Regions from separate parts of the Homo sapiens genome. Here all the other regions are linked to region 1. Evidence: fine-mapped expression QTL. A gene starts in region 1. Each other region holds a variant in brackets. All regions are shown on one strand. Distances are from middle to middle. Region 1 holds the start of DUSP22 (dual specificity phosphatase 22). Region 2 has its middle 43 kb from the start of DUSP22. Region 3 has its middle 23 kb from the start of DUSP22. Region 4 holds the start of LOC105374870 (a long non-coding RNA gene).

Region 1 (7,456 bases):
TTCTTGTTCTCAATTTGTTAATAATGAACAATTGTGGCTTAAGAATTCTGCAGAGAACTAACATGATCTATTAGTGTAGATTTAGCTGGTTATTGAGGAGAGGGGGTTGGAGACATTTCTGATTGTCATGACTGAGAGGGTGCTACTGAAATGTAATGAGCACAAGTCAGAGATGCTTCTGAACATTCTGCAGTGCACAGGACAGCCTTCTAGAGCAAAAATGTATCCAGCCTCAAATGTCAGTTTTGCCGAGGTTGAGAAACCCTGGACTGCAATATGTTCAAGAGGCCAGTGAAGATTACATAATTACTTCTCTGTTGGATAGAGGTTAATCTTGATGCTCTGAAATTATCACTAACACCTATAATGATTTGGCTAACTCTAATGGTTGAGCTTCTGCTTGCGGGCTTTTAAACACCGCCACCTTAAAGTTTAAGGTTACTGCTCACTAAATACACTATTAACCAGTTATCCTTAACCATGTGTAAGTATGGACTCAGCTATCCTACACACTCTGTAGACCATTCCTTATTGTGCACACATGAAGGCTTGACTTCTTTCGGAGTTGTTGCCAAAATTTGTGATGTTGGCAGAACTGAGAGGAAGAAAATAACAAGAAGAAAAGTGGAAGTAAAAATCTTACATAGTGTGAAAATCCACCAGGCTTGTGATGCCTTAAAATTTTTATGAGTGAGATAAAGCACAAATGAATAGAGATTCTACTATGGATGTGAAATACGCCAGCTTTGTTGAAGTGTTTCCCTTCTTCCTTTCTTTCCATAATCAAGAGCTAGAGAGTAAAAGTCATAGAACTGCAAGACATGAACAACTGGGAATTATTATTGTAATAAAGAGAGGTGTTCAGGGTTAGGGTGGAGGAGAGTACAGCAAGTCTCTTGTGGGAAACCCCCCAACCCCACAGAATCAATAATTTTTTTTTTTTTGAGACGGAGTCTTGCTCTGTTGCCCAGGCAGAAGTGCAGTGGCACAATCTTGGCTCACTGCAGCCTCTGCCTCCTGGGTTCCAGCGATTCTCCTGCCTCAGCCTCCCGGGTAGCTGGGATTACAGGCACACGCCACCACGCCCGGCTAATGTTTGTATTTTCAGTAGAGACGGGATTTTGCCATGTTGGCCAGGCTGGTCGAGAACTCCTGACCTTAGGTGATCGGCCCGCCTCGGCCTCCCAAAGTGCTGGGATTACAGGCTTGAGCCACCACGCCCAGCCAAAACCAATAATTTTTTTTTTTTTAAATCTTACTCTTCTGACTTCTGGTGTTAATAGTCTCCTCTTTTCCTATTTAACCCAAAAGAAAAATTTGAGATTTTGATAGGAACTCTGGGCATGTGGACCTTTTAGGCCATACTGAATGCTGATTTTGACGGTAAGGAGGAAGCCATGGCAGGTTCTGAGTTTAGGGGGAAAAGCAGATGGTCCAAGCTGGAGAAATATATCTACAAGAAGAGTATGAATAAGAGAGAAATATTGCAAGTGGATGACAGAAGAAAAAAATCAGTATGAATTTGTCATTCATGGTCAAGTACCAGTTTATGAACTGGTTGTGTTCTTAAACGTTCATCTGACTGTTGGATGAATGGCCCAAGGAGGGCAGAAGGCTGCAGAAGTAATTCATTGGTTGCTGGATAGAAGCTTCAAAAATTCACAGTTTAATGCTCTTGTTTTAAAGAGAAAAAAAAAGCTAGCTCAGAAAAGTTGATCATCTTGCTCAAGACCTCCTTAAGAATTAGAAATAGAGGCTGATTACTGGGATTCCCCAGGCAGTCCACTAACGATTCTGTGTTGTCTCTAAGCAGGAAGGTGGTAAAAACAGTTACTTAATGGCAGTGTGTGGCAGAGGGGAAAGGGCAGGCTGTCCAGGTGACTGAGAAGCAGGCGGGAGAAGAGGAAGTGAAGGCAGTGAAGAAGGAACACTCTCCCAAAACAAGAGGCAGAAAGGGCACTCCGGGTCTGGGTCCCATTCTACCTAGAGAAAACATGCAAGCGCATATTGATTGAGGGCTTTCTACACGGGGGGTTTTGATACCATTTGTTGCCCAGAAGATATGGGGTACAAGTACAGAAATGGCGACAGATGGAGTCTACAAGCTCTTTCCAAACGTTCACATTCCTCAGAACCTCACCCGTTTTCTCGGCCACAAGAAATTATTAATTTATTTGACAAATATTTTAAAAATCACTATTTTGTGCTAGATTTTGTCCCAGGCCACATGGCTGTATTACTGAATAAGACAACTTTTTTTTTTTTTTTAATCTGAAAGTTGCTGGCTAGTGAGACAGATAAAAAGAAAGCAAATACATGTATTTCCGATCAATAATACGGAGTAATATGATAGTGACTGGAGGACCAACCTGGAATTGGGTGGTTAGGAAAAGCCTCTTAGGAGAGATGGCATTTGGGCTGATACCTCAGCGATAACAGGCAGGTATGCAGAGAGCTGGGGATCCAGGTGTCTGGATAGAGAGCACAGCCCAGCAAGCCTGACAGGCTCAAGGAACAGACAGGAGACCAGCATGTGTGTAACTCGCTTAGCAAGAAGATAAAATGAAGTCAGCAGGGGTGAGCCAGGGCACGTCAGATTGACGCATGTACTCATTCAGCAAATATTTATTAAGCACCTACTATGTTCAGGACATTGTTGAGGATACATAAATTAAGAAGAAAAACCACTGGCTCAAGGATTCTGTCGCTGGAGAGAAACTTCAGAGTTTAATAACGTTGATAGAACACCCAAAACAATTCTGCTACAGTTTAGAAATTGATCCATTCCAGACAGAACCACAATGCAGACATTAAGGGACACACATCATCTAAGGCCGTGAGGTCTGAGGTCAGAGATCCAGCCATCTGCTCCCCCAGGGTAGGGAGGTCGGGCCTCCCCGGGGTGAGTCACGTAGCCCACCTCTCCCCACCAGGCGAGGCTTCTCGGTCTTGGTGCATGGGGCAGGGCCGCAGGAAATCCCCCAGCCTAAATCTGCCGCACTCAGAAAACCCAGGCAGGGGAGCCCCCAGAGACCAGGCCTCTGATTAGCACCTGATTCACGGAGGCAGCCAAGGCTGGGTAGCGACTGCTGGTAACTGGCCCCCGGAGTCGCCCCAGGGGAAAAGGCCAAAGGGGGATCTGGAGACCCCCGGCCGGGGAGCGGGCTCCGAGACGAGCGCAGCCGCCCGGTCAGGGCAGCGCCTGCGCGTCCGCCAGGCCCCGCCGCGCAGCCTCGGGTGTCCCGGCGGGGCGGCTCGGGCCGCGCACGCGCTCTGGCCTCCGGGGCCGGCCGCCTGGGAGCCCGAGCCTAGTGCCTCCCACGCCCGGCGGCCGCGAGCCGGGGTCCGCGAGGGCGGAGTGGGGCGCGGCAGCCAGGAACCCGACTACGAATCCCAGGGTGCGGGCGGGCGGAGCGAGGAGGGACGCTGGGCCTGCCCGGTGCGCACGGGGGCGGGGACCGGCAAGGCGGGACCATTTCCCGGCATAGGCTCCGGTGCCCCTGCCCGGCTCCCGCCGGGAAGTTCTAGGCCGCCGCACAGAAAGCCCTGCCCTCCACGCCGGGTCTCTGGAGCGCCCTGGGTTGCCCGGCCGGTCCCTGCCGCTGACTTGTTGACACTGCGAGCACTCAGTCCCTCCCGCGCGCCTCCTCCCCGCCCGCCCCGCCGCTCCTCCTCCCTGTAACATGCCATAGTGCGCCTGCGACCACACGGCCGGGGCGCTAGCGTTCGCCTTCAGCCACCATGGGGAATGGGATGAACAAGGTAACGTCTTCCCTCGTTCGCGCTGGGTTTGCCTCCGCTCCGACGCCCTGCCGTCTCGCCGGCGTCGGCTGCCCGACGACTCGAGCCCGGGGTGCCCTTTCCCGCGGTGGGGACGGGCGCGGAGGGAGGGGCGGCGCGCCTGGGCGGCGACCGCGGAGTCGGGGTTCGGAGGTGTTCCCGCCCCCACCCCACCCGGCTTCCGGGTAGGCAGCCCCCAGCCGCCTGCCTTGCCAGCCGGTGCGTTTTCGTGGCTGAAACAAGCCGCGCCCTTTGAAAGCGTTGACACTTGTTCTGCCGAGAGGTCAGCTGAGCTCCGAATGGATGTGGCTTCTTTTTTGCCCTCCTCTTCGCTCCCAAACTACGCTCTTGAAGCCACCACCGCCCCCCCCACATCATTAGTAAACGGGTGTCCTCTGTAATTTCCTCTTTCTCCTCAGATTCTGTGTGTGTGCCTGTGAGCACAGAGAAGTTTTTCTTGTGGACAGAGAAGTTAACAGAGTCCTAAGTCCTGAGCTGTTTCTAGATAGTGGGGAGGAGAGAAAAGATTCAGAGTTGATTAGGTTATGTGACTTCTGCAACAAGGGCAACCTGTTGCTGGCTGCTTGCGCTGATGAGGCCTTCTGGAAAATCTGTGTTGCTCCATTTGTCCCGTCCGTTTCTGGGCCCCACCCTGTGTTCTTTTGTTGCCCGCACCTCACTTCCCGGGCGGTGGGCTAGCCTTTCCCGTCCAGGGAAGTTGCCAGATTCCAGCTCTGGCAGCTGAGAGTTGCCGGGGTGTATTCATGTGAACCACAGGGTTAAGGATTTTGTTACTTGGTACTTGGCTGGTTTCGAGGAAGGATTGACAAGACTTTACAAAGCCCGCAACAAAGACAAGTACCTTTTTACGGGTCTTTGAATGGTCCTGGATTAGATGAGTCGTCTTTCTGCTTCACTTTTTCATTGCGCTCCACCCACCCACATCTCTACATGCCGTCAGCTTCCACACTGGGTGGGGATGGCAATGTGGCTGTGTTTTTTTTCATGTCCCTCAGCACTGGGTCAGCAGTGGTTTGGGTGTTGGGGCTGGAGTGTTGCAAATGCGGATTCACGGTAGGGCAGGGAAAACCTAGCTAACTTTTCACGTGCGCATGTCGTGTTTATTGTGTCCTGGTTACCCAGTTTGTGAAAGAACTATTGTGTGTTTGGGACCTGCATATCAATACTGGGGTATTTTGGTAAAGAGAATTGTATTCACTTTTTTTTTTTTTTTTTTTTTGGCGAGTGATCAAGTTTGGAAACAGACTGTCTCTCTCTTGGATAAATACTTGTATTATATTCCGATGAGCACTGGAATCCATCAGCACCACGAGCCTTCTGCTTTTTAAATTAAAACAGAACAATAAAGATGGTCATCATAAGTCTGTGGGCTCCGTTTGCCTTCCCATTGGTGGTGGTATCTCAGCTTTCCTTTGGCTGTTTCTAGTTTTCCCACTTGAGCTGTTCACTCTCCACCGTTTTCAGCATTTAATTTATAGTATTTGTGTAATACAATTCAAAAAATATATTTAGGAATACAGATGGTTGCCTAAGGGATCAACGTTATTTTCATGCTTTTCAACAAAAGCAGTAATATTCATATACTTTTTACCTTTCAAAATGGGTAATAAATTTCTTGACTTTTATTATCTTGTGAATAGAGACTCACAGTGTATCAATGAAGAAATACATGTATAGAGAGATTTAGAGACTTCCCTGCTTCAACACTTATTGATTATGTACATACTATGAGCCAGGTGTTGTGCTAGTGGGTGGGGAGGGGGCAAAGGGAGTACAGTGGTAAATGACCCAAAGATTCTTCACAGAACCTTCAGTACAGGTCAGCATTGTCCAGCACTAATATGATGCGAGCTATATATGTAACTTAAAATGTTCCGGTAGCCACATTAAAAAATAAACCGGTGAAATTAATTTTAATAATATATTTTATTTAACAATATATTAAAACTATTGTTTCAACATGTAACCAATATATAAAGTTATTCATGGAAGATTCCATGTTTTTTACTATGTCTTTGTGAAAGGAAAAATCTCGGGACCCCCAGATCACTTAACCTTCAAAGTCTAGTGTGTATTTTATGCCTAAATCACATCTCATTTTGGACTAGCCACATTTGGAGTACTCGATAGTCACTGTGGCTAATGGCTGCTGTGTTGCACAACACAGGGTGTGTATGTGTGTGGGGGTGAGAGAGAGAACAAACACAAGGTAGGGAGGAGTAGAGGCTCCAGAGGATAAAATAGGCAATTTCAGAAAAGTGGGGAAAGCAGAAGATGGGATGAAAGTGACCTAGAAGGGGCATTCAGCCCAGGCAAGGAATCCTGCTGCAGTAAACATGTTTAACGTGAGATCAGGAGGAACTACCCCAAATCACAAGGTTCATTAGTGGCAAAGTAGATCGCAGGAGGCCAGTAACTTAAGAACCTTAACTAGAACTTTTCCATATATTACTGTGTGACTTGGAACGAGGCTTCATCTGTAAAAAAAGAAGAATGGTTGATTTGCAGAATCAGCGGAAGGTGCTACCCCTAGAAATCCTTTTCTAAGAACATTTATAAATATGTGCAATGTCTTTGGAACTAACATAACTTGGAATGTGTGTGCCCTGAGGTTACTGGGACAAGATTTCTTTCCAATCTCGTACACATTGGTCATTTTTGGCAAAAGAGCATTTCTGGTCTAAACAGTGCACGCTGCATTCTGAGTGCTTTGGGACAGCAGTTTTTATCATTCACATCCCTGTGGTGGCTCTTCTTGTCGGTCCGTTCCGGGCTCCTGTACGGCGGAATATTGTGCCCGTTTCCGTTAGGTGTACGCAGCAGATTATACAGAAGATGGAGGGGAAAAAGGCTTTTATATTCTAGAAAATTAAAGATGAGGAAATAAAGACAGGACTGGGCGTGGTGGCTCGTGCCTGTAATCACAGCACTTTGGGAGATTGAGGCAGGTGGACTGCTTGAGTCCAGGAGTTTAGAACCAGCCTGGGCAACATGGCAAAACCCTGTTTCTACCAAAAATACAAAAAAAAAACCCACAAAAACAAAGCAATCAGCCGAGTGTGTGGTGGCTTGTGCCTGTAGTCCCAGCTACTTGGGAGGCTGAGGTGGGAGAATCACCTCAGCCCGGGAAGTCTAGGCTGGAGCGAGTCGTGATTGTGCCACCGCACTCCAGCCTGAGCGACAGAGCGAGACCCTGTTTCAAAAAAAAAAAAAAAAAAACCCAACAACAACACAGTTGTGAACCATTTTTTTTAACACTTTATAAAATCTCAGCCTCACGGTAGCCCTATGAGGTCAAACGACCTTATATTTGCCCAGATTGGGGAATGGAGATTTGGAGAGGTTAGGTAGCATAAGTAATGCCAGGCAGGGCAGAACCCAGTCTCCACTGATTTTGAAGATAGGAAAAGTCTTTCCTTTGAGCTGAGATGCTAATTCATCCCAAGTAAGTTTTAAAATTCCTAAAAAGTAACTTGAAAAGCTCCTCATAGCTTCGATTACTTGTCAAATAGCCAAAATCACCTCCTCTCTTCCTTTATGTTTGACATTGATAAGGAAGGGGGTAATTACAGGCAAGAAACTAAAACTTTTTTTTTATTGTTTTTGTTTGTGTGTGCAATTCCTAGGTAGATGCCCCACACTGGCCAAAATTATA
Region 2 (7,892 bases), 43 kb before region 1:
GGTCTGCAAATCACAGGCTCATGATGGGCCCAGATTCTCTGCAAAAAAGAAAGGACATCAAATAAGATAGATGTCATAAAGTGATTACCTTCATTATGAGCAGTCTGGAAACCCAGTCTTGGTAATGGTTTGAAGTCATCAAATGTATCTACTCCCCTTATATAAATTTTACAGTTGTGTAGGCATGTTAGGTTGAACCATATGAAATTGCTGTTCTACAGGTTAAAGTGTTCAATATGAGCAAATCCCCATGGTTTGACCTAATAGATATGTATGCAATTATAACACTCATATGGATGTGTATGTAGAGATACACAACGCACGCATTCATACAGAGTAAAACTACATCATGAGTGAAAGTTCTGGGCTAATTTAGGTGTAAGCAGAAAATCATGCTTCTTGGTGTACGTGTTTCTGTTCCTTTAAACTCTAATTTCTGGAAGTTTATGTGAAATGAGGAGAGGAGTCTGTGCTATATTGTGGGAAACTTATGAGGCCAGGAATTAGGAAACCTACAGTCTCACTTGCTCTAAGACGTACTCATCCCTTTAGTGGACATTACTTTAGTAAATTTTTCTTGGATTCTGAAGGATTTTACAGGTTCTCAATCTGTTTTTTCCTGAGGATCCAGAATGGATAGGAGATTGGGTTGAGTTGAAGCTTAAAATTATCTATTTTCCTTTTGTTTTGCTTCTTTCAGTTTTGAAGAAAAATATTTCCTGATATAACCTTTTTTTCCTGATTGGCCTCTTTCTACCAAACTAAGAGAGCAGCAAACACAAAATGTGGCTGAGATTCCATTTGGCAGGAATCCAGCGATTCTGAGTTTGGTTCTCCACATTTTGCAGAACACATCCGCCTGACTCACAAACCTACACTCTCCCATGTCCATCATGGTGAAGGTGCCGACATGATGCTAATGACTCACACGCACCAGAGGAGGGTGACACTAGACGCACTCGTGGAGCCACTCATGCTCGGTTTCCTAATTATGGGAAAGACTTGTGTTGAGCCACCTTCACGTTCTCACCTTCTCCTCTGCAATGTATGTGACCTTCCAGCACAGGCACCAGCCCTTAGAAATATGTCAGCCTGTCTGGTCAATATGGTGAAACCCCATTTCTACTAAAAATACAAAAATTAGCGGGGTGTGGTGGTGGGCGCCTGTAGTCCCAGTTACTCAGGAGGCTGAGGCAGAAGAATCCCTTGAACCTGGAAGGTGGAGGTTGCAGTGAACCGAGATCACACCACTGCACTCCAGCCTGGGTGACAGAGAGAGACTCCGTCTCAACAAAAAAAAAAAAAAAAAGAAAAAAGAAAGAAATATGTCAATATGTCAGCCTGTAAAATCTGTCTCCAGAGAAAGGGAAGAGAAGGAATTACCATGTCTTGGCTTGGGTTGTAGTTGGTGAAGTTTACTATTGTGTACAGAAGAACTTGAATTTTCTCTAATCATTAGTAGTAAGTAAAACATGCTTCTTAATGGAGTGACTGTTGTGGAGACATAGAGAAATACAGAAAAAAAATTACATATATATATATATGGAACAGGGTGAGGGAGAGACAAAAGAGAAATAATACACACTTTTTTGCATAATAGCTTTATAGAGGTATAATTCATACCATAAAATCACTCTTTTAAAGTGTGAAATTTAGCGTTTTTTAATACTTTTGAAGAGTTGTGTAACCATCATGACTACGTAATTTAGAACATTTTTATCACCTTCAAAAAAAATATATCCCACACCTATGAGCAGTCACTCCCTATTTTCTCTTCCTCCCAGCCCCTGGCAATCACTAATTTAGTTTCTGGCTCTGTGGATTTCCCTTTTTCAGACATTTCGCATCCATGGTCTGATACAGCATGTGGTCTTTTGCGCCTGGCTTCTTTCACTTCACATTTTCAAGGTCTTTGGGGGTCATTAGCGCCGTGCCATGGATAAGAACTTCATTTGCTTTTGTGGCTAATAGTCTCTTGTATGGATAGACCACATTCTGTTTAGTCACTCATCAGTTGATAGACATTTGGGTTGTTTCTACTCTTTGGCTATTACAAAAAATGCTGCTACTATGAACATTTATGTACAAATGTTACGTAGACATATGTTTTGATTTCTGGGGTATACACCCAGGAGTAGAATTTTTAGGTAATATAAGAACTCTGTTTAATATTGTGGGTAACTGACACACTGTTTTCCAAAGTGGCTGCACCATTTTACATTCCCATGGTAAACTAAGAGGGTTCCAATTTTTCGTGTCCTTGCCAATACTTACTATTTTTTTTGAGATGGAGTCTCACTCTATTTGGAGTGCAATGGCGTGATCTCAGCTCACTGCAAACTCCGCCTCCCGGGTTCAAGCGATTCTCCTGCTTCAGCCTCCTGAGTAGCTGGGATTACAGGCAAGCACCACCACGCCCGGCTAATTTTTGTATTTTAGTGGAGATGAGGTTTCACCATGTTGGTCAGGCTGGTCTCGAACTCCTGACCTCGTAATCTGCCTGCCTTGGCCTCCCAAAGTGCTAGGATTACAGGCGGGAGCCACAGCGCCTGGCCAATACTTACTATTATTTGTCTAATTATAGCCATCCTCATGGGTGTGAAGTGATATCTCATTGTGGTTTTGATTTTCACTTCCCTAATGGTGGATAATTTTTGGGCATCTTTTCATATTCTTGTTGGCCATTTATATATCTTTCTTAGAGAAATGTCTGTTCAGATCCTTTGTGCATTTTTTTAAAAAATAGCTTATTTTTCTTTTTATTATTGAGTTGTAGATGTTCTGTACTTATTCTAGAAGCAAGTTACCCTTCTATTCTGAATATATTTGATTTGCAAATATTTTTCCCATTTTGTGGGGTTTTTTTTTTTAACCTGATGGTGTCTTTTGCAGAACAAAAGTTTTTAATTTTGATCAAGTCCAATCAATCTTTTTTTTTCATTTGCCACTTTTGCTTTGTTGTTTTATCTAGGAAGACTTTACCTAACTCAAGGATATTAAAATTTACCTTTAGTACTTCTTCTAAGAGTGTATAGTTTTAGCTCTCACATTAAGGTTTATGACTCATATGGATTTAATTTTTGTGTATGTAAGAAAGGAGTCCAACTTTATTCTTTTGCATGTTGATATTCAGTTTTCCCAGCACCATTTGTTAAAAAGATCTAGAGAGAGGAGGGTAATACTGGACCTACTCATAAAACCACCCGTGCTTGATTTTCTAATTTCTAATTTAAAATTATATCTATGAGTCTAATAATTTCCTAATTTTTAAAAATATTTTAATTTTTAATTTTGTGGGTACATAGTAGGTGTATGTATTTATGCAGTACATGAAACATTTTGATACAGGCATATAATGTATAACAATCACATCAGGGTAAACGGGGTATCCATCTCCTAAAGCATTTGTCATAGCTTTGTGTTACAAACAATCCAATTATAATCTGTTAGGTATTTTAAAATGTACAATAAATTATTGTTGACTGTAGTCACCCTGTTGTGATATCAAATACTAGATCTTATTCATTCTAATATATATATTAGAATATATACATATATTCTAATTCATATATATACATATGTATAAATAGAAAAGAAATATATATATTTCTTTTTTTTTTTTTTTGTAGATGGAGTCTCGCTCTGTCACCCAGGCTGGAGTGCAGTGGCATGATCTTAGCTCACTGCAACCTCCGCCTCCTGGGTTCAAGTGATTCTCTTGCCTCAGCCTCCCAAGTAGCTGGGACTACAGATGCACGCCACCATGCCCGGCTTATTTTTGTATTTTTAGAAGAGACAGGGTTTCAGCATATTGGTCAGGCTGGTTTCGAACTCCTGACCTCAAGTGATCCACCTGCCTCGGCCTCCAAAAGTGCTGGGATTACAGGCATGAGCCACCGCACCCACCCATTCTAACTATATTTGTGTACACTTTAACCATCCTTCTGTCCTCCCCACCCCAGCCCTTACTACCTTCTGGGAACCATTCTTCCCCTCTGTATCTCCATGAATTCAACTGTTTTAATTTTTAGCTTTCA[C/T]AAGTGAGTGAGAACATGCAAAGTTTGTCAGTCAGTGCCTGGCTTGTCTCACTTAACATGATGACCTCCAGTCCCATGCATATTACAGCATCTAATTCTTTTCTATGGCTGAATAGTACTTTATTGTGTATATGTACCACATATCCTTTATCCATTCATCTATTGATGGATACTTAGGTTGCTTCCAGATCTTGGCTATTGTGAATAGTGCTGCAATAAACATGGGCATGCAGACATCTCTTCAGTATAGTGATTTTCTTTCTTTTGGGTATATACCCAGCAGTGGGATTGCTGGATTCTAGGGTAGCTCTATTTGTCAAAATTGATTGGCCACAAACATAAGGATTTATTTCTGGACTCTAAATTCTCTTCCATTGATCTACATGTCCGGCTAGTACCACACTGTCTTGCTTACTGTCACTTTGTAGTAAGCTTTAAAATCAGGACGTGTGAGTCTTTCAACTTTGTTTTAATTTTTCAAGATTGTTCTGGTTATTCTTGGTGCCTTGCCTTTCCGTATGAATTGTATAATAAGCTTGTCAGTTTCTGCCGAAAAAAAAAAGCCAGCTGGGATAATGATAGGGATTATATTGAATCTGTAGATCAATTTGGGGAGTACTGCCGTCTTAACAATAAGTATTGAGTATTCCAATCTATGTTCATGAGATGTCTTCCATTAATTTAGATCCTCTGTAATTCTTCCAATGATGTTTTGTACTATAGTTTTCAGTGTAGAAGTCTTGAATTTTTTGGAAAAATCTATCCTTAAAATATTTTATTCTTTTTGATACTATTATAAATGGAACTATTTTCTTACTTTTATTTTCAAATTGTTCATTGCTAGTGTATAGAACCAACCGACTTTTGTATATTGATCTGCTACCCAGCAACCTTAATGAACTAATTTTATATGCCTAATAGTTTATTTTGTGGCATGCTTAGAATTTTTAATATTAGATCATGTCATCTACAAACAGAGATAGTTTTACTTCTTTCTTTCCCATCTGATGTCTTTCACTTTTCTTTCTTGTCTAATTGTCCTGGCTTGATCCTCCATTGCAATGTTGAATAGAAGTGGTGAGAGTGGACTTCCTTAGGGCAAAAACATTCTGTCTTTTACCACATGTGTAATGTTAGGTGTGGTTTGTTTGTAGATTCCCTTGATCAGGTGGAGGAAGTTCCCTTCTATTCTTAGTTTTTGTGTGTTTGTATTATGAAAGATTGTTAAATTTTGTAAAATGCTTTTTTTCCCATCTCTTCAGATGACTATGTGGTTTTGTTGTCATGCTATTAATACAGTGCATTACATTGACTGATTTTTCAAAGTTAAAGCATCCTTATCTTCTTTGGATGAATCTCATTGGATTCAGTTTGTGTTTTGTTGAGGATGTTTGTATTGATATGTATAAGGGATATTGGTTTGTACTTTTCTTATGATATCTTTGACTGGTTTTGGTATCAGGGTAATACTGGCGACATAGAATAAGGTGAAAAGTGTTTCCTCCTCTTCTCTTTTTAAGAGTTTATGAGAGGGTCCGGGCGTGGTGGCTCATGCTTGTAATCCCAGCACTTTGGGAGGCTGAGGCAGGCGGATCGCTTGAGGTTGAGAGTTCGAGACCAGCCTGACCAACATGGAGAAACCCCATCTCTACTAAAAATACAAAATTAGCCAGGTGTGGTGGCACATGCCTGTAATCCCAGCTACTCAGGAGGCTGAGGCAGGAGAATTGCTTGAACCCGGGAGGTGGAGGTTGCAGTGAGCCGAGATCACACCACTGCACTCCAGCCTGGGCAACAAGAGCGAAACTCCGTCTAAGGAAAAAAAAAAAAGTTTATGAGAGATTGTTGCTAATTCTGCATTTGATAGAATTCACCAATGAAGCCATGTGAGTCTGAGCTTTTTGGTAGGAAGTTTTTAATTACCAATTCAATCTCCTTACCTGCTACATGTCTATTCGTATTTCTTATTTACCCCTCTCTCGGCTTCAATAGTTTGTGTCTGGTATACACATGTTAAAATAAAAATGTTAATTTGAAGTTTCTCCCCATCCCTGTCATCTACCTATCCTCCTTATTACTTGGGCTCATCTCCTTGACAGCAACTATAGGAAAAACAAGAAAGCAAAAATATTATCTCTTTACATGCGACAGATTCCTTTGGATTTTGCTCCCCCATGGCTTCTTTTGATATGTTTGGTCTCCTAGCCCCTCCTCTTTAAAACTTCTCGACTCTAGAAAAACACAGAAGAAAAAGACTGAGCGAGAGAAAGAGAAAGATTGTTCTAGTGAGATTTGAATCCATTCTGTAGTGCCACATGGATAAAAAGTAGGCCTATCAAATGTCACAAATGGGCTTGACTCACTTGGCATCTCAAAGCCCTTATGACATGTAACTGCTAGCAAAGGTGTGATGATTCATATCTTCAGCAGAATTGAGAACATGAAACTCTACTTTGCCTTCCTCCTTAGAATTGTTCAGAGGAAATGTTATTTCTTCCCTGAAAGTTGGTTGCAAGTTTCTTTCCTTTCTTACTGAATGAAATGTCACATATATTGATAGATGACCACTTTCACACAGAGCTAGGTAAATAAGATTATGATTCTTATATTAATTCCAGAGTGATGATTTGATAAAGAGAGGAGATAATCCATCATTTCATCCTTGCAACAGAGGTCTCAATTTTGTTGTTATTAGAAGGAGATGAATTATTTTTTCTTTAATATACTTTAAAAAACAAAACCAACCACCATCAGCAACAAAAATACTCTCTAAACTTGTGTTTAAACTGCAGCGGAAAAAACTATTTTAGTGAACTTAGCATTTTCCTAGTATTACCTCACCTCAGGATTTGAGTTTTCCAATGACTGTGGCAGTGCCTTGTTATTTTTAGGGATTCGACAGCCTTTTCTGCAAACCGTCCCCTTAAACTCTCCCTCATCTACCTCTGCATTGTGATTATCTCATATATCAAAAAGTTTCTTTTTCTCTAAGATGAAGCTGGCTTATCTTTATTCAGTCTAGAAGATTTGATTGCACAGAAATGATCTAATAGTTGCCCACCGAAGGATTTCACTGCACCCGAACTCATTCAAAATGCTTCCTTAGTCAGTTTGTTCTTGTTTTCCTTCTAAGTTTTGCATGCTTCTTAAACCCTGTTTCAGAAAGTCAAAGAAACATACCTTCTCATTCATTTAAACAACACTGAAGGACCTGAAAAAGCCTGTCCTTAATTATTTCATAACTGAAACGAAAACAAATTTTAGCATGTCAGTCTGATCTTGTAAGCCATACACAGGAAACCCAAGGTCAGCGTAGAGTGTCTTATTCTAGAATGGTAAGCCAGGCATTATTGTTTCTATTATTCTATAAATTACAGCTGACATGCATGTATGACAGCTTAACACAGATATTAAACAGACCAAAGAGACTTTCAATTTCTACCTACAGTGACAGATTATTTATCTCAACAGGTAAAATCATAATAAATCCAAAACTCTTAGGGATGCCATGAAGTGTTTATTTTCTAGTTGGAGAGGAAATTATGTTGGCACCTTAATTACGCTTTATTTTACTGTTTCATTCATGGGCCTCGGTTGCACAGAATCAGATGACTCATAATTCTTGCTTCACCACACACTTCCCCACTGGCCCATGCACGGCCCTTTTCTATTAATTTACTCATTTATTTATTTCTAATAATACAAAAAAAACACCCACGGACCCACCACCCATCACCACTGATCCATAAGCCAGGACTATGAATTTTTTTTTTTTTTGAGACACAGTCTCACTCTGTCGCCCAGGCTGGAGGGCAGTGGCATGACCTCGGCTCACTGCAACCTCTGCCTCCCAGG
Region 3 (7,892 bases), 23 kb before region 1:
TATCTGCACTTCATTTCAATGATTGTATCTTTTTACAGCTTTCAGTGGGCCACTGCCTTGAAAACCTTTTAGGTGCCATTAGGTTTGCTTTTTTTTTTTTTTATGAATGAGGAATGCAGCCCTATTGTAATCTGCTGTGATACCACCCCAAGATCAACCATTGTATCTCTGACAGAGTTGTATCTCTGACTGTTTTCTATTCCTATTATGATGTGCTACCCATCTAGAAGAAAATATTTATAAATCACATACCTGATAAATAACTTTTATCGGCTATATATATAGAGAACTCTTAAAGTCCAAGTGTAAGAAAGCAAACAACCATTAAAAATGGTAAGTTTTTACAGACATTTGAACAAAGACAATCATATGAATGGCAAATAAGCACAGAAAAAGATATGCAACATTATATGTCATTAGGGAATAAGACATCACTTGATACTAATTAAGATATCTCAAATTACAGATGATGACCAAGCCAAGTATTGGTGAGGATGTAGAATAGCTGGAACCCTCCTTAATTGGTGGAGGGAATATAAGCTAAACATAGTCAAATACAAACCTGCTACATGATCCAGGCATTGAACTTCTAGTTATTTACCTAGAGAAACAAAAGCATAAAATATGTACATAAATATATATGGCAACTTTATGTGTAATCACCATAAATTAGAAACTACTTAAATGTCCATTAACAACTGCATGGATAAATAAATTGTAGTATATTCAAACACATACAAAGGAGTATTCACACTGCTCAACCATAAAAATGAATTAAGTATTAATACATGCAGCAATATGAATAAATCTCAAAATAACTATGCTGAGTAAAAGCAGGCAGACAAAAAGAGTGAACAAAGTACATTATTCCATTTATATAAACTCCAGAAAATACAAACTACTCAAGAGTTGGTATGGAGTCAGCTGGGCACAGTGGCTCACACCAGTAATCCCAGCACTTTGGGAGGCCCAGGTGGATGGATCACTTGACCTTAGGAGTTCCAGACCAGCCTGGGCAACATGGTGAAAGCCCGTCTCTACTAAGAATACCAAAAAAAATTAGCTACACATGATGGCACATGCCTGTAATCCCATCTACTTGGGTGGCTGAGGCAGGAGAATTGCTTGAACCCAGGAGACAGAGGCTGCAGTGCCTGGAGACTGCGTCATTGTACTCCAGCCTGGGCAGCAGAGTGAGATCCTGTCTCAAAAAAAAAAAAAAAAAGAGTTGGTACTGAGTCTATATGCAATGGGGGAGCCACTGGAGGGTGTTGCCCATGGTGCTATGTTTTAGGGCTCTCTGGAATTAAATGTAAAACTGCATTCATAAACTGATATTTCTGGGGAAAAAATTTCAAAATATCACTCCTTGGGAAGGCTAGAATGAACTCTGTGGTACTGGTGGTACCGTATTAGAGTTGGAGACATAAGTATGAACTCAGGTTAGCTTAATATAGATGGACAGATACAGAATAATTATAGCCGTGTGTGTCCATGAGTTAGTATACAATTTACATCCTAGGTCTGCCCATTGAGAGGGCCTTGAGTCAGTGAGCCCCCAGTGGCAATGGGCATACCCAGTGCCAAGGTCTTAATTTCTAATCATTCTTCAACAAAAGGAGCCAGGGTTCCTTGGAGAAATCGCTGACTATGGGACTGACAGGGAAAATACAAGATAGACCCGGAGTGTCTTGCAGTGCCAGCAAGAAAAGAAATAAAGCAATTGGGATGTGAACAAGTGACACAGGAGCCAACTTGGAAGAGCTCCCGACAGCCAAAGCTGAAACCATGTGAACAAGAAAATAGAGAACATACTATTGAATTATAACCCAAAGTGTAAAATAAACATCGTGAGTCCATACTAACATAAACTGCATAAACAAATAAATATGCACAATTCCTCAGGGATCTAGAACTAGAAATACCATTTGACCCAGCCATCACATTACTGGGTATATACCCAAAGGACTATAAATCATGCTGCTATAAAGACACATGCACACGTATGTTTATTGCGGCACTACTCACAATAGCAAAGACTTGGAACCAACCCAAATGTCCAACAACGATAGACTGGATTAAGAAAATGTGGCACATATACACCATGGAATACTATGCAGCCATAAAAAATGATGAGTTCATGTCCTTTGTAGGGACATGGATGAAATTGGAAATCATCATTCTCAGTAAACTATCGCAAGGACAAAAAACCAAACACCGCATGTTCTCACTCATAGATGGGAATTGAACAATGAGAACACATGGACACAGGAAGGGGAACATCACACTCTGGGGACTGTTGTGGGGTGGGGGAAGGGGAAAGGGATAGCATTAGGAGATATACCTAATGCTAAATGACGAGTTAATGAGTGCAGCACACCAGCATGGCACATGTATACATATGTAACTAACCTGCACATTGTGCACATGTACCCTAAAACTTAAAGTATAATAATAATAAAAGAAAACAAATAAATATGTAAATAGACAAGAACAGACAAATCTTTCACATGGAAGGATTACAAATAATTTATGTAATACCTTGCTCCCCAGGAGATGCGCTTAGTCCTCCCTCCCCGCCTCTGCCAGCTCATGCATGTGGGGCTTTGCTGGATGACTTGCTTCTAAAGAGTAGAGAATGCCACATTTTGTTTCCCCATTTATTCATCAATGTGCCTTTGGGTTATTCTTATTCTTGACTAATTTTGAGTAATACTGCTATGAACATGGTTATAAAAATATCTGTTTGTGTCGTTGCTTCCAATTCTTTTGTGTATCTCTGCAGAAGTAGAATTTCTGGATCATGTGGTAATGTTATGTGTAATTTTTTTGAGGAACTGCCATGCTGTTTCTCACAGCGGCTGCATCATTTTATATTCCCACCGGCAATGCACAAGAATTCCATTTCTCTGCATCCTTGTCAACACTTGTTTTTGTTTTCTATTGCTTTTATATTTTTTATAATAGCCATCATAATGAGTGGGAAGTAGTGCTTCTTTGTGGTTTTCACGTGAAATTCTCTAATAATTAGTGATGTTGAGCATCTTTTTATGTGCTTATCAGCCATCTGCATATCTTCTTTGGAGAAATGTCTGTTCAAGTCCTTTGCTCATTTTAAAATTGGGTTGTGTGATTTTTGTTATTGTTCTTTATATAGTCTGGGTATTAAACCCCATTAGATATGCAAATATTTTCTCTCATTAAATGGGTTGCCCTTTTAAC[T/C]GTGGTTATAGTGTTTTCTGGGCAAAAATTTTTTAATTTTGATAAAGTACAATTTGTCTATTTTTTTCTTTTGTTGCCCATGATTTTGGTGTCATATCTAAGAAATATTTACCAAATCCAATGTCATGAAATCCTTCCCCTATGTTTTCTGAATTTTATAGTTTCAGCTTTTATGTTTAGGTCTTTGATTCATTTAGAGTTAATTTTTGCACATGGTGTTAGGTAAGGGTGCAACTTCATTTTTTTTAAATATGGATGTTCAGGTTCCCAACACCATTTGTTGAAAATATTTATTTTCCCCTTGAATGCTTTTGGCATCCATGACAAAAATCATACATCCATATGTGTGAGGGTTTGTTTCTGGGCCTTCTATTATAATCCATGGGTCTATATGTCGGTTTTTATGTCACTACCACATTGTATTGATTACCCGTAGCTTTGTAGTAAGTTTTGAAATCACGAAGTGTGAATGCTCCAACTTGATATTTCTTTTTTTAAGATTTTCGTTGACTATTCAGGGTCCCTTAAGTTCTGTATGAATTGTAGGAGTTTTCTATTTGTCAACATAAAACAATGTTAGGATTTTGATAGAGATATCATTCAATCTGTGGATTATCACTTGGGGGTAGTATTGATATCTTAACAATATTAAGTCACAATCCGTAAATATGGGATGTCTTTCCATTTATTTATCCCTAATTTCTTTTCAACAAAGTTTTCTAGTTTTTGGTGTACACATCTTTCACCTCCTTGGTTAATTCCTAAAGATTTTATTCTTTTAAGCGCTATTATAAATGGAATTTTTTAAATATTAATTTTGAATTGTTCATTGTAAGTGTACAGAAAAGCAAATAATTTTGTGGTTGATTTTGCATTCTGCAACTTTACTGAATTTTTATATTAGTTGTGTGTGTGTGTGTGTGTGTGTATAATCTTTCAGGTTTTATATAAGATCATGTCATCTACAAACAGAAAGATTTTACCTATTCCTCTCCAAATTAAATGCTTTTTATTTCTTTTTTCTTGCCTAAGTTCTGTGGCTATGCTATGGACTAAGTGTTGTGTCCTCCCCAAATGTATTTGTTGAGGCCCTAGTCTGAATTGAGATGGTAATTAGAGGTGTTGTTTATCCATGAAAAAGAGTTAAGAGTTAAATTTTGTCAAATGCTTTTTCTGCATCAATGGAAATTATTGATGAAGAAGAAGAGAACTTACTTCTATTCTCTATTTCCTTCATTCTGTTAATGTCGTGTATTACATGATTGATTGCCATATGTTGAAGCATCTTTGCATTGCAGGACAAAAGTCCATTTGCTCACTGTATATGATCCTTGTAATATGCTGCTGAATTTGGTTTGGTAGTATTTTCTTGATGATTTTTACCTCAATATTTATAATGGATATTCATCTATAGTTTTTTGTCACATTCTTCCCTGGTTTTGGTATCAGAGCAATGCTGTCCTCTGAATAACTTAGGAAGTGTTTCTTGCTCCTGAATTTTTTGAAGAGTCAGGAAAGGATTGGTATTTTTTTCTCCTTTTAATATTTGGTAGAATGTATCAGTAAAGCCATCTGGTCCTGGGCTTTTCTTTGATTGGAAGTTATTTATTTATTTATTTATTTATTTAACTTTTTTATTATTGATTCAATCTTCTCACAAGTTATAGATCTACTAAAATGTTTTCTTTCTTTCTTTTTTTTTTTTTTTTTGAGACAGAGTCTTGCTCTGTTGCTCAGGCTGGAGTGCAGTGGCACGATCTCGGCTCACTGCAACCTCCGCCTCCCAGGGTCAAGCAATTTTCCTGCTTCAGCCTCCTGAGTAGCTGGGATTACAGGCATGTGCCACCACGCCTGGCTAATTTTTGTATTTTTAGTAGAGACAAGGGTTCACCATATTGGCCAGGCTGGTCTTGAACTCCTGACCTGAGGTGATCCGCCCACCTCGGCCTCCCAGAAATTGTTTTATTTCTTTATGACTCAGTCTTGGTAGATTTTGTGTCTCTAGAATTTTGGCCATTTTGTCTAGGTTAGCTAATTTATTGGTGTACAATTATTCATGGTACTCTCTTATATTCCTTCATATTTATGAAAAATTGGTAGTAATGTCTCCACTTTCATTTCTGATTTTAGTAATCTGAGTCGTCTCTCTTTTTTTCTTAGTCAATCTTGCTAAAGTTTCTCAATTTTGTTGATCTTTTTGAAGAACCAACTTTTGGCTTCACTGAGTTTCTCTATTGTTTTTCTATTCTCTATTTCATTTATCTCTGCTCTAATCTTTATGATTTCCTTCCTTCTGCAGCTTTGGGGTTAGTTTGTTCTTCTTTTTCAAGTTCCTTAAAGTATAAATTTAGGTTGTTGATTTGAGATCTTTCTTCTTTTTTAATGTAAGCATTTACAGCTTTAAATTTCCCTCTTAGCAGTGTTTTCACTGCATCCTATAAATTTGGGTATATTGTTTTAATTTTCACTTATTTATAAGTAACTTCTAATTTCCCTTGTGATATCTTCTTTGATCCATTGATTGCATAAGAAAATGTTGTTTAATTATCATATATAGTGAATTTTTCAGTTTTCTCTTTTTGTTAATTGATTTCTAACTTCAACTTGCTATATTCGGAGAAGACACTTTTATAAAAATAATATCAATCTTTTAAAAATGTATAGACACTAGTTTTGTAGCATAACATATGTTCGATCCTAGAGAATGTCCCATCTGCATTTGAGAAGAATATGTATTCTGTTTTTGTGGGGTGGGACGTTTTATACATGTCTGTTGGATGTAGTTGGTTTATTGTGTTCTTCTAGTCCTCTATTTCCTTGCTTATTTTCTGTCTGCTTGTTCTATTGATTATGGAAGTCTGCAACTATCATTGTAGAACAGTCCACTTCTTTCTTCACTTCTGTCCATTTTTGCTTCATGTATTTCGTGGGTCTGTTATTAGGTGTGTAAATGTTTATGACTGTTATATCACCTTGCTATATTAAAACTTTTATTACTATCTAATATCATTCCTTGTCTCTTTTCAACTTTTTTTTAAACTTAACTCTATTTTGTATAATATTTCTATCCCTTCCCCAGCTCTCTTTTGGTTACTATTTGCATGAAATATCTTCTGTCATCCTTTTACTTTCAACCTTTTTGTGTCTTTGGATCTAAAATGAGTCTCTTGTAGACAGCACATAGTTGAATTATTTTTAAAAATTTATTCATCAATCTCTGTCTTTTCGTTTGATAATTTAATTCATTTATACTTAAAATATTCACTAGTAAGGAGAAACTTATTTCTGCCATTTTGCTATTTGTTTTCCATTTTGCCTTTTGTTTTCATCTTTCACATTACTGTCTTACTTTGTTTGAGTTTTTGTAGTGAAACATTTTAATTGCTTTCTCATTTCTTTTGGTATATATGTTATAGCTATTTTCTTTGTGGTTTCCATGGGAATTACATTTAACACCTCCATTTATAACAGTCTAATTTGAACTTACACAAGCTTACAGCTCTGTCTGTACCTTTTAATTGTTGATGTCATAAATTATACATGATCAAAAACAATGACTAATCATTGTTTCTCTATGTATTTGTCTTTTAACTCATAGAAAATAAAAGGGGAGTTACAACACAAAATTACAATTATATTAACTTCTATAATTACCCATGTAAATCCTCTATTGGCTATCTTTATTTCGTCATATGGCTTTGAGTTTCTTTCTAGCATCCTTTCATTTCAACCTGAAAATCTTCCTTTAGCATTTTTTACATTTATAGCCACTATGTATTTAAATCACTTTCTTTCTCTTTTCTTCTTCTTGAACTGACACAATGAATATGTTTGTCTCCTTGACAGTGTCCCATGGGTCCCCTGGACTCTGTTCACTTTTCTTCAGTCTTTTTCTGTTTCTCTGACTCAGTAATTTCCATTGTCCCATCTTCAAGTCTGCTGATTCTTTCTTCTGCCTGCTCAAATCTGCTTTTGAAACTAAAGAGTTTCAAAACTTCACCAAAGTGAATTTTATATTTGTTATTGTACTTTTCAACTCCAGAATTTCTGTTTTCTGTCTTTACTGATATATATATACATATATATATATTTAGAACATATATGTAAAATATATATGTGCTTAATACATTCTATTATCATAATAATAATTATTTTTACTATTCAACAAATATGAAGAACATTTAAAGAGGATATTTCAAGTATTTTCAATGGGATGATTCATTATTCTGAATTGTCAAGACTATTTTATTTTACATATATATGTAAAATATATATATATTCTATACTGGGGATCAGCCTGAGATGTAAACTTAAGGTTACCTCAGGTCTTTTCTGAGTCTGTATCTTTCCCTAGACATGCATACTGACTTTCCAAATTTCCTCATATAAGCAATTTCTTTTGAATGTCCTAATCCTTAAATCTCAGCCAAGCCTCTTTCTGGAAGCTAGACATCTTCAAATAGACTCCAGAGTTCCAAAACTCATTACATCAGTCAGGTTCTGGCAATACCACTGTTGACTAGGCAGAGAGAACAATTCTTGGAGCTTCCTACTTGGCCATCTTCCTTGACATCCCTCTGTAGGTATGTGTGCATATATATATGCACACTGAAACTAAAGATGAGTCCTTAAAAGTGGAAGACAATGAAAGTAGAGTGGGTCAGAGTGAC
Region 4 (7,892 bases), 65 kb before region 1:
CCCTCTTGGATATGCTCCCTGTGACGGGCAACCGTTCTACTGGAAGTAATTCTGAAAAAAGCCTCTGAACCCATGAGGCCCACGTGGGGCTTACCTGGCATTCAACTGTGTTCTCCTACATGTCACCATGTCCTGTCTCCACGACTCATGTTTGATCCTCGCGGGGGCATCAGAGCTTCCTCAGCACCTAGCAAGGCCATCTGTATATGCAGTGGTGATCCCCATTTCAATGTAAATTACGACCACTCTCCACCACTGCTACCCAGGATGTTTCCCAGACTCCTTAGGTGTGTGAGGTGCAGAATCAACCAACTGGAAAGAAACACTCTTAGCCACTTTAATACTCCTCCTCCCTCTTTCTAAATTTCCTAAACCAGTTGAAAATGGGCACCTTTTCTGAGAAGCACAAGCTGTCTCTTGCCCCTTTTACAAATGTCAGTCATGTGTTGCTTAAGGACAAGGATACCTTCTGAGAAATGGGTCCTCAGGCAATTTGCTGTTGTGTGAGCATCGCAGAGTGAACTTCCACACACCCGCGTGCTATGAGCTGCTTTACACCTGGCGATATGAGACAGCCTGTCGTGCCAGGCTGAGACCTGCATGTCACTGCGCTGAGTGCTGTCGGCAATTATGACACAGTGGCGTGTGTGTATCTAAACAGAGAAAAGGTGCCGTGAAAGAACAATACGAAAGATGAACAACAGTACCTGTGCAAGGCACTTACCATGAGTGGAGCTTGCAGGACTGGCAGCTGCTCTTGTGAGTCAGTGGGTGAGTCGGGAGTGAATGTGAAGACCTAGGACATCACTATGACTACTGCAGACTTTATAAACACTGCACACGTAGGCCACACTCTCTCTCTCTACATATAAAGTATATATATGTGTGTGTGTATATATATATAATTGTGCTAAGACGTTGAGGTGGCTACAATGTCATCACATGATAGGAATTTTTCAGCTCCCTTATACTCTTACAGGACAACCATAGTATACGCTGTCTGTGGTTGGAAATGTTGTTGTGTGGCACATGACCGTATGGAAGAACAGAGAAGACCATTCAGAGCTTCATCGGAGGCAGTGGTGACCGCAGGACCCCTGCATCTGCTTCAGCCCAACCAGACATCCCTGACCCTGCCCAGCAGACCCTGACCTCCGCCACAGATAACCTGGGAGCCTGTGGGCACGGTCAGCAGGGGGCGTGGAGTCTGAGGCACATGACTCTCATGCGCCAGCCCAGTGGTGCCCGCACCTCATTCTTAGAATTTCCTGGAAGTGGCTTTGCTCTGAATGCCTGCGCTGGCATCACAGAAACAAAAGTTTCTTCCCTGGAAGGGATGGGAGCAGCAGGGGCTGGTGGAGGAGCTGCCACTGTTTTGGTCACAGAACCACGCGTTCTCCAGGTGAAAGGTAAAGCTTCAACTCTGCACAGTAATCCAGGGAAGCATCTTCTTCAACGGGACGCGAGCCGCTTTCTCCTGTCGCTGTGGGTTTCATTTGTGGCGACGTCTCTGCAACATCCATTTTTCCCTGAGTTTCTTTCTGGCCGTAGCATGCACCTTCGGGGGCTACGAAGTTCTGATGCTCAGGTACTACAGGAGATCCATTGAACTGAATCTCTGGAAGTGGGGCCCAGGCCTCTCCTTTTCAGAAGCTCAGTGTGTGCTTCTGATGTACAGCCAGAGTTTAGAGCCATCAGGCTCACCCAGTCACGGTGATACCAACTCTCCAACCAGTGACTGTTCTTGGAACATGCAGATCACTCTATTCTAGACGTGAGGCATGAGGAGAAGCCTGCAGGAAGCTTCTGGAAAGGAGTTCATCACTCCTAAGGGGAAGATAGTACCTCTCTGTCTTGTCCAGATGTGACACCTGGCAGAGCTGCCTGGAAGACACCAGTGCCCCAGGCGCCAGGTGTGTAGAGTCACAACCCTGCGTGCCGTGTCTGGAGTCTGCCCTGGCTCTGGGCTTCCTGTGGTAGGTGATGACACAATGCCTCACTCCCTAACCCTGCTTGAGGCTTGGGTGTGAGTTATTTGTAGAGAAAAACATTCTTACTCATTCCTGGGCCTGTTCCTTCTGTACCTATAGGGAAAGAGCGGAGGAACCAGGTTCCCGGTCCAGGCCCCACTTCCTGTTACGCCCTTTAGCTGATTTCCTCTGTTCCTCGCCAGATTCTAGAAGGTTTGCGAACTCTGCTCATGCAAAGTCTGGCTGCGGGGGCAGTGGAGTTGCTGGAAATCAGACTCGAATGCCACACTGCTTCAGGAAACCGAGGTGCTTTCCTCCGTGTACAGCCAGTGTGCTCCTTAGGTCTCTGCATCAGCCTGTGAGGGGGATGAGATCACCGTCCTGTTTCAGAAGAGGAAGGCGAGGCCCGGAGAGGGCGCAGGGTGCCCTGTGGCTGTGGCCACCCGGGAAGGGGCTGTGACGCCCTCGTGGTGCAGGGATGAGGGACGCTGCCTGCCTTTGCTGTCGAGCAGAGGTCTCACCCCTGCTTTGTGAGTTTCTGAGTTTCTGAGTGACCTCAGCAAAGCAGCTCAGCCTTTGAGCTCAGCTTTCTCATAGGAAAACGGGGTTGAAAAATCTTCCCCACATTTATTATGCAAAAGCAACCGACGGAGGAGCGCCTGCTGATGCTCAGCAAAATGCCGTCTGTGTGCTGCTCATCATTCCACGCCTTCACCCTGAACGCCCAGCTTCTTATCAGAGTCTAGGGGCAGCAGAGAGTGATTGAATACGCACGTGTGTCCACACTGCAGCCACGGCAAGGCCGAGAGAGGGGCTCCCCACCATGCTGGCGGCCTGGGGCCTGGACAGAGCCAACTGGGGAAAGTGCCTCGCAACAGACCAACCTGGTGAGGGAGGCGGGGGGAGCACATGGCGCAACCCACCCTCCTACCATCCACATTGCAAAGCCCCAGCGATTCCTGGGCGTCACTTTTCCACCCCCACCCACCCTGTGTCTCTGTGGCTTCGGGCGCGAGCTTGTGGGGCAGAGCCAACAGACAGAGCTGGGGACACCTGGGGCCGCTTCACAGCGAGATGCCAGACTCAGGCCTTTACCAAGCTGCGCGTCACTGGTAGAAAAGGACATTAGGAACACTAGGTAAAAAGCAAAACAAAAATAAATCTCACTTGGCATCTTTCCCATTATAGTTCAGTCGATGGTAGCTATGATTCTATTTGCCTGTGTTACTATTTACTCTGAAAGAGTGGATTTAGGCCAGAACATTTGCAGTCTGGCTGTGTAAGGCACCACAACAGTATCAATGAGCCGCCGCACTCAGGATGATTTAGCTCTCCCCATTTTCTCAGATCTCATCACCCCCAATCCTCAGCTCCCTTGTGACCAAAGGTTAGCATTCTTCACAGAGTAGTTAGTCTGTGGACTGGGGGTGAAGCGAAGCCCCTCCATTTCCTGGGTCTGGAGACCCAGGGCCTCCGAAGCTCTGGCCTGGGCCATGCAGACTTTTCATGGAAGGTGAGGGCAGGGACTTCTGACACTGAGGCCCTGAGTTGGGGCCAAAAGTTTTAGGTGAAGGGCACCATCCCCAGCAAGAATGCTCTCACTTCAGATGCCAGCTGCAAACTCCAGGGTCCCCAGGCCACCTGCACTTCTGACCAAGTCAGGGGTTCCCCTGACCCCTTCAGAGTCAATAATTCACCAGAATGACTCTCAGAACTCCGGAAAGTGCTACATGTATGATGACAGTGTTATTACAAAGGACACAGCTCAGGACCAGCCAAAGGAAGAGACAGCAGGACACAGTCCAGGAGGGCCTGGAAGGCAGAGCTTCCATGTGCTCAAGACCGGTCACCCTCCCACTACATCCATGCGTTCACCACCTGGAAGCTCCACCAAGCTTTGGGGCCAGAGCTTCCACTTGGGTTTCATGACATACTCGTGA[T/C]TGATTGAATCACTGGCCTGATGGTTGAACTTCATCTCCAGCCACCTCCCTTCCCTAGAGGTCAGGCTCAGAGCCCTGATCCTCTGGTGACACGTGGGTCTTTCCTGTAAGACCGTCACCCGTCCTGAAACCACGCAGGCCCCCACCGTGAGTGACCTGTTAGCATAAATTATCAGGGCCCACCATGAATAGCAGAGACACTCCCATCACTTGGGAAATTGTAAGGCTTTAGAGAGCCTCTCCCAGAAGATGGAGACAAAGGCCAGCATGAGTCCTCATCACACAGGAGGAGTGTGGGTGTCGTGAGTGTGAGCGGTCTTGCTCACACAGGCACATGCCTCTGTTCTCTAGAGACAAAAACCACAGCTCCTTAGCATTTCATGCGAAGCCTGCCATCCACTGGCCTCATCCCTCGTTGCCTAACGTGGGGCTTTTTCTGCAAGGCCGGTGCTCGCTGTCCTCCTCAGGGAAATTCTCACCAGCTCCCTGGAGCATGGCTGTCATTCGATCTTTGGTGTAAACAGCATTCGACAGGCTTCTGTAATCATAATTATCATGACATAATTGTAACTTTTCTTCTCAATACAGTCCTTTTCTCCATTCGATTAAAGTGATATTTTGCTTACAAGTAACAAAAACCTGGCTTAAAGCACAAGGACATTTCTAGTTTACTTAAGTCCAGAGATAGCTGGTCCCAAGGTATTTCGGCCACTCAGGCCACTGAGAACCAGGTTATTTCTGTTCTGTCATCCCTAGAGAGTTGGGCTGTCTACCGAGCAGTCACTGTTTAACATGGACATAGGCGGCAGCTGCCTGGGAAAGCACCATGTGTTTTCACAACGGGGTTCCAGGTTCGCAAGAGAAGGACTTTCTGCTCTTGCACCTCTCTCCCTTATGGGGGGGAAATATTTCTGGGCAGCCCCAGCAGACATCCTACTGGATGACAGGGTCTCTCCTGGCATTCTCCCCTGGCAAGGGGAGTGTGTGGGTGCCTCTGTTTGGGCCATTCCTCAGAGCGACTGTATTGTTCCCTGAACATAATCAGGCTGCCCCGCAGGATGGTGGTGGGAATGGCTGGTGAGCCTTTGACACTGCGAGGTTGTAGAATGTGTTCTAAAACAACAGAGAGGCATCAGAGCACGAGGAGGGAGGGAGGGAAGGAAGAAACAGGCAATGGTGGGAATGAGGAGCAAAGGAAACAAGAAAGAAAGATTTAAATCAGGCAGGAACACCAGGTCCTAGCGTGTAGGTACTTTTTAAGATGGAATGTACTTTACAACTAAACCCTATGTCAGATTCATGTTCATTTATCATGACTTCATTATATGCTGTAGTAGCTTAGTAGTTTTCAAAACTTTTTGTTTTTTTGAGACAGGGTCTTGCTCTGGAGTGCAGTGGCACAATCTTGGCTCACTGCAACCTCCGCCTCCTGGGTTCAAGCAATTCTCCTGTCTCAGCCTCCTGAGTAGCTGGGACTACAGGCGCCCACCACCACGCCTGGCTAATTTTTGCATTTTGAGTAGAGATGGGGTTTCACTACATTGGTCAGGCTGGTCTCCAACTCCTGACCTCAGGTGATCCACTCTCCTCGGCCTCCCAAAGTGCTGGGATTACAAGCGTGAGCCACCGCGACTGGCAGTTTTCAATCTTTTTGAAGCAAGCAAATTTTATATTAAAAAAAAAAAAACATTGGTTTTTTGGTGTGTGTGTGTGTGTGTTTTTTTTTTATCATTTGATAGGTCAATATAAAACAAAGGCAATCCATTTTCCACCCAGAAGTGACTTATACCACATGCTTTGTCTAAGCCTTCATTTGCTCTTGGGAAAAATGTTCCTCATCTTTCTAGAATGAAGAGAAGTACTTTCTTTGGAGATTGACAGGGGCCAGAACAAAGTTAAATAATGTACTCCTGGAAATGCAATTTTGTCAAAGGAGTAACTTCTCTCAGTCCTCAACGCGTGCAGTCATTACACAAGTGCTCGGCAGAGTCAGGGAGTCTCAGCATCGTTCTAGAAAGCCCAGATTGACCGCCTTCCTTCCACTATGCCTGGGCTGGCGGGAGGGCAGGACTAAGTGGCGGGATTGCACCCCTCCCCGCAATGTCTAAAAGTGGAGCCGGGCTCAGCCAGGCAGTGGGTGGGGGTGTGTGGGTCTCAGCCAGTTTCAATGGTTTTGACAATGAAACTCACCTGGGTGTGTGTTATTTGGCTTTGTTCTTCAGATTTAGACCCTCTCCTAAGTCAAATTGAAACTCCCCGAACTGGTATCCTATAAGAGCTGACCCTTATAGTAATGTGTGCTTCGAATCATGTGAACTGAAACCTGTGGACTTCCCACAGCCCAGCAGGACCCACCTTCCCAAGCAGCAAACCCTGGAGCCTCGAGCTGACACGTCAGTCCTTGTGCTTCGTGCACATTTAGAAGGAACTTCAGACAAACTTCATTCACTTCAAACTCTGTCCCCTTGGAGCCTCGAGCTGACATGTCAGTCCTTGTGCTTCGTGTAGATTTAGAAGGAACTTCAGACAAACTTCATTCACTTCAAACTCTGTCCCCTTGGAGCCTCAAGCTGACACGTCAGTCTTTGTGCTTCGTGCAGATTTAGAAGGAAATCCAGACAAACTTCATTCACTTCAAACCCTGTCCCCTTAACCTATTTCCAGTATCCAGAGGTAAAGCAAATCCTTCAATGTGATGCCCAAATAAAACTATAAATATACATATGTAATATATACAAATACAGAAAAATATATACATACATATGTGCACACATGTCTATATGTTTGCATGTATGTATATGATATTGAATCACGCTTTTTCATTTAATAACATGACTTGCAGAACCTTCCACCTGCATATTTAGTTCATATCACTTTATTCTATTTAATAGCTGCAAAACCTCGATCCAGTCTCTTCTATTTGTTGATACGAGGGCTCAGCCCCCCACCCACCCCTCATTTTTTTGGCCTTGTTAATGATGCAATTAATGTTGATAGATAGATAGATAGATAGATAGACAGACAGACAGACAGACAGACAGATAGATAGATAGAGATATGTAGAAAGATATCTATGTATCTCTATGTATCTATTTTTATATGTACTTAAAAACAAATATCTGTAGAGTGAGTTGCCTGAAAAAGGATAAGTGTATTTTCACAGGAATTACCTATTGCCCGCCAAAATTGTTGTCCAACTCAGCCTCTCACCAGTGGTGCAGGAGACTGGTAAACCTCACCAATGCTGGGTTTTATTAAGCTTCATTTATTGCCAATGCTATGTAAATAGCCAGTTATACAGCACTAGTATTTTGCTTTCCATTTCCTTAATCAGGAGTGTAACTGAGAAATCTGTCTCATGTTTGATGGTCAAGAACTGGCTTTTGAGAGTCTCTATTTTTCAATAGAATATTTCCCCTTTTCTTTACTGATATGACAAAGCTCTCTTTACAATAAGCAAAGACACCTATGGTTGGTCACCTGCCTTGCAAAACTTTCCTAAGTATATTGTTTCTCTTTTGGTTTTCTGTATTTTATATGTAAAAGGTTAGGCTTTTTGTGAAATTTGGTAATAAATGTTATTACTTCTGGCATTCCTGGCCTCTTTCATCATGACTATTTTTTCAATCACTCATCTTTTTTTAGCCCTCATGATTCCAGCTCCTTTTAACATATGACACCGCTTTTGAAAGATGGTGGTTGCTAATCCTGAAGCCGTTGACTCCCCAGATGACGTTCCCGTGAAACGCTTGGCAGTTGCAAGAGGAACTCGGGTCCTCAGTGCCGTTTACCAAGGCCGACAAAGTCCAGCGGCATTATCGTGTCATCGTGACATCGGTATTTGACTGTGGAAGCTGAAAGCCCGTTAGATAATTACATAAACATTCATGGCAAGAAATACTGTTTCCTTATTTCTTATTTTTATTTTTTTTTTGAGACGGAGTCTCGCTCTGTCGCCCAGGCTGGAGTGCGGTGGCGCGAT

The links.
Region 2: its variant is fine-mapped to the expression of DUSP22 in whole blood (TOPMed, PIP above 0.99).
Region 3: its variant is fine-mapped to the expression of DUSP22 in whole blood (INTERVAL, PIP 0.95).
Region 4: its variant is fine-mapped to the expression of DUSP22 in whole blood (TOPMed, PIP above 0.99).

Annotation. Positions count from the first base shown.
Region 1 is chr6:288,799-296,254 of GRCh38, forward strand. It overlaps DUSP22 (dual specificity phosphatase 22), which reads left to right and starts at 3,689. Exons shown (of 7, transcript NM_001286555.3): 1 at 3,689-3,762. The coding sequence starts at 3,742. RefSeq lists enhancers at 2,652-2,941, 2,868-3,368, 3,369-3,869, 4,162-4,421 and silencers at 3,052-4,071, 4,816-4,972, 4,852-4,911, 4,922-4,981.
Region 2 is chr6:245,674-253,565 of GRCh38, forward strand. No RefSeq gene overlaps it. Among named protein-coding and RNA genes, the nearest start is that of DUSP22, 43 kb to the right of the region's middle. RefSeq lists an enhancer at 6,451-6,520. The variant C/T (reference allele first, on the strand shown) is at 4,038.
Region 3 is chr6:265,933-273,824 of GRCh38, forward strand. No RefSeq gene overlaps it. Among named protein-coding and RNA genes, the nearest start is that of DUSP22, 23 kb to the right of the region's middle. The variant T/C (reference allele first, on the strand shown) is at 3,223.
Region 4 is chr6:223,252-231,143 of GRCh38, forward strand. It overlaps LOC105374870 (a long non-coding RNA gene), which reads left to right and starts at 7,679. Exons shown (of 3, transcript XR_926357.3): 1 at 7,679-7,747. RefSeq lists enhancers at 2,184-2,343, 2,404-2,453, 3,749-3,808, 4,369-4,498, 4,509-4,628 and 1 more. The variant T/C (reference allele first, on the strand shown) is at 3,911.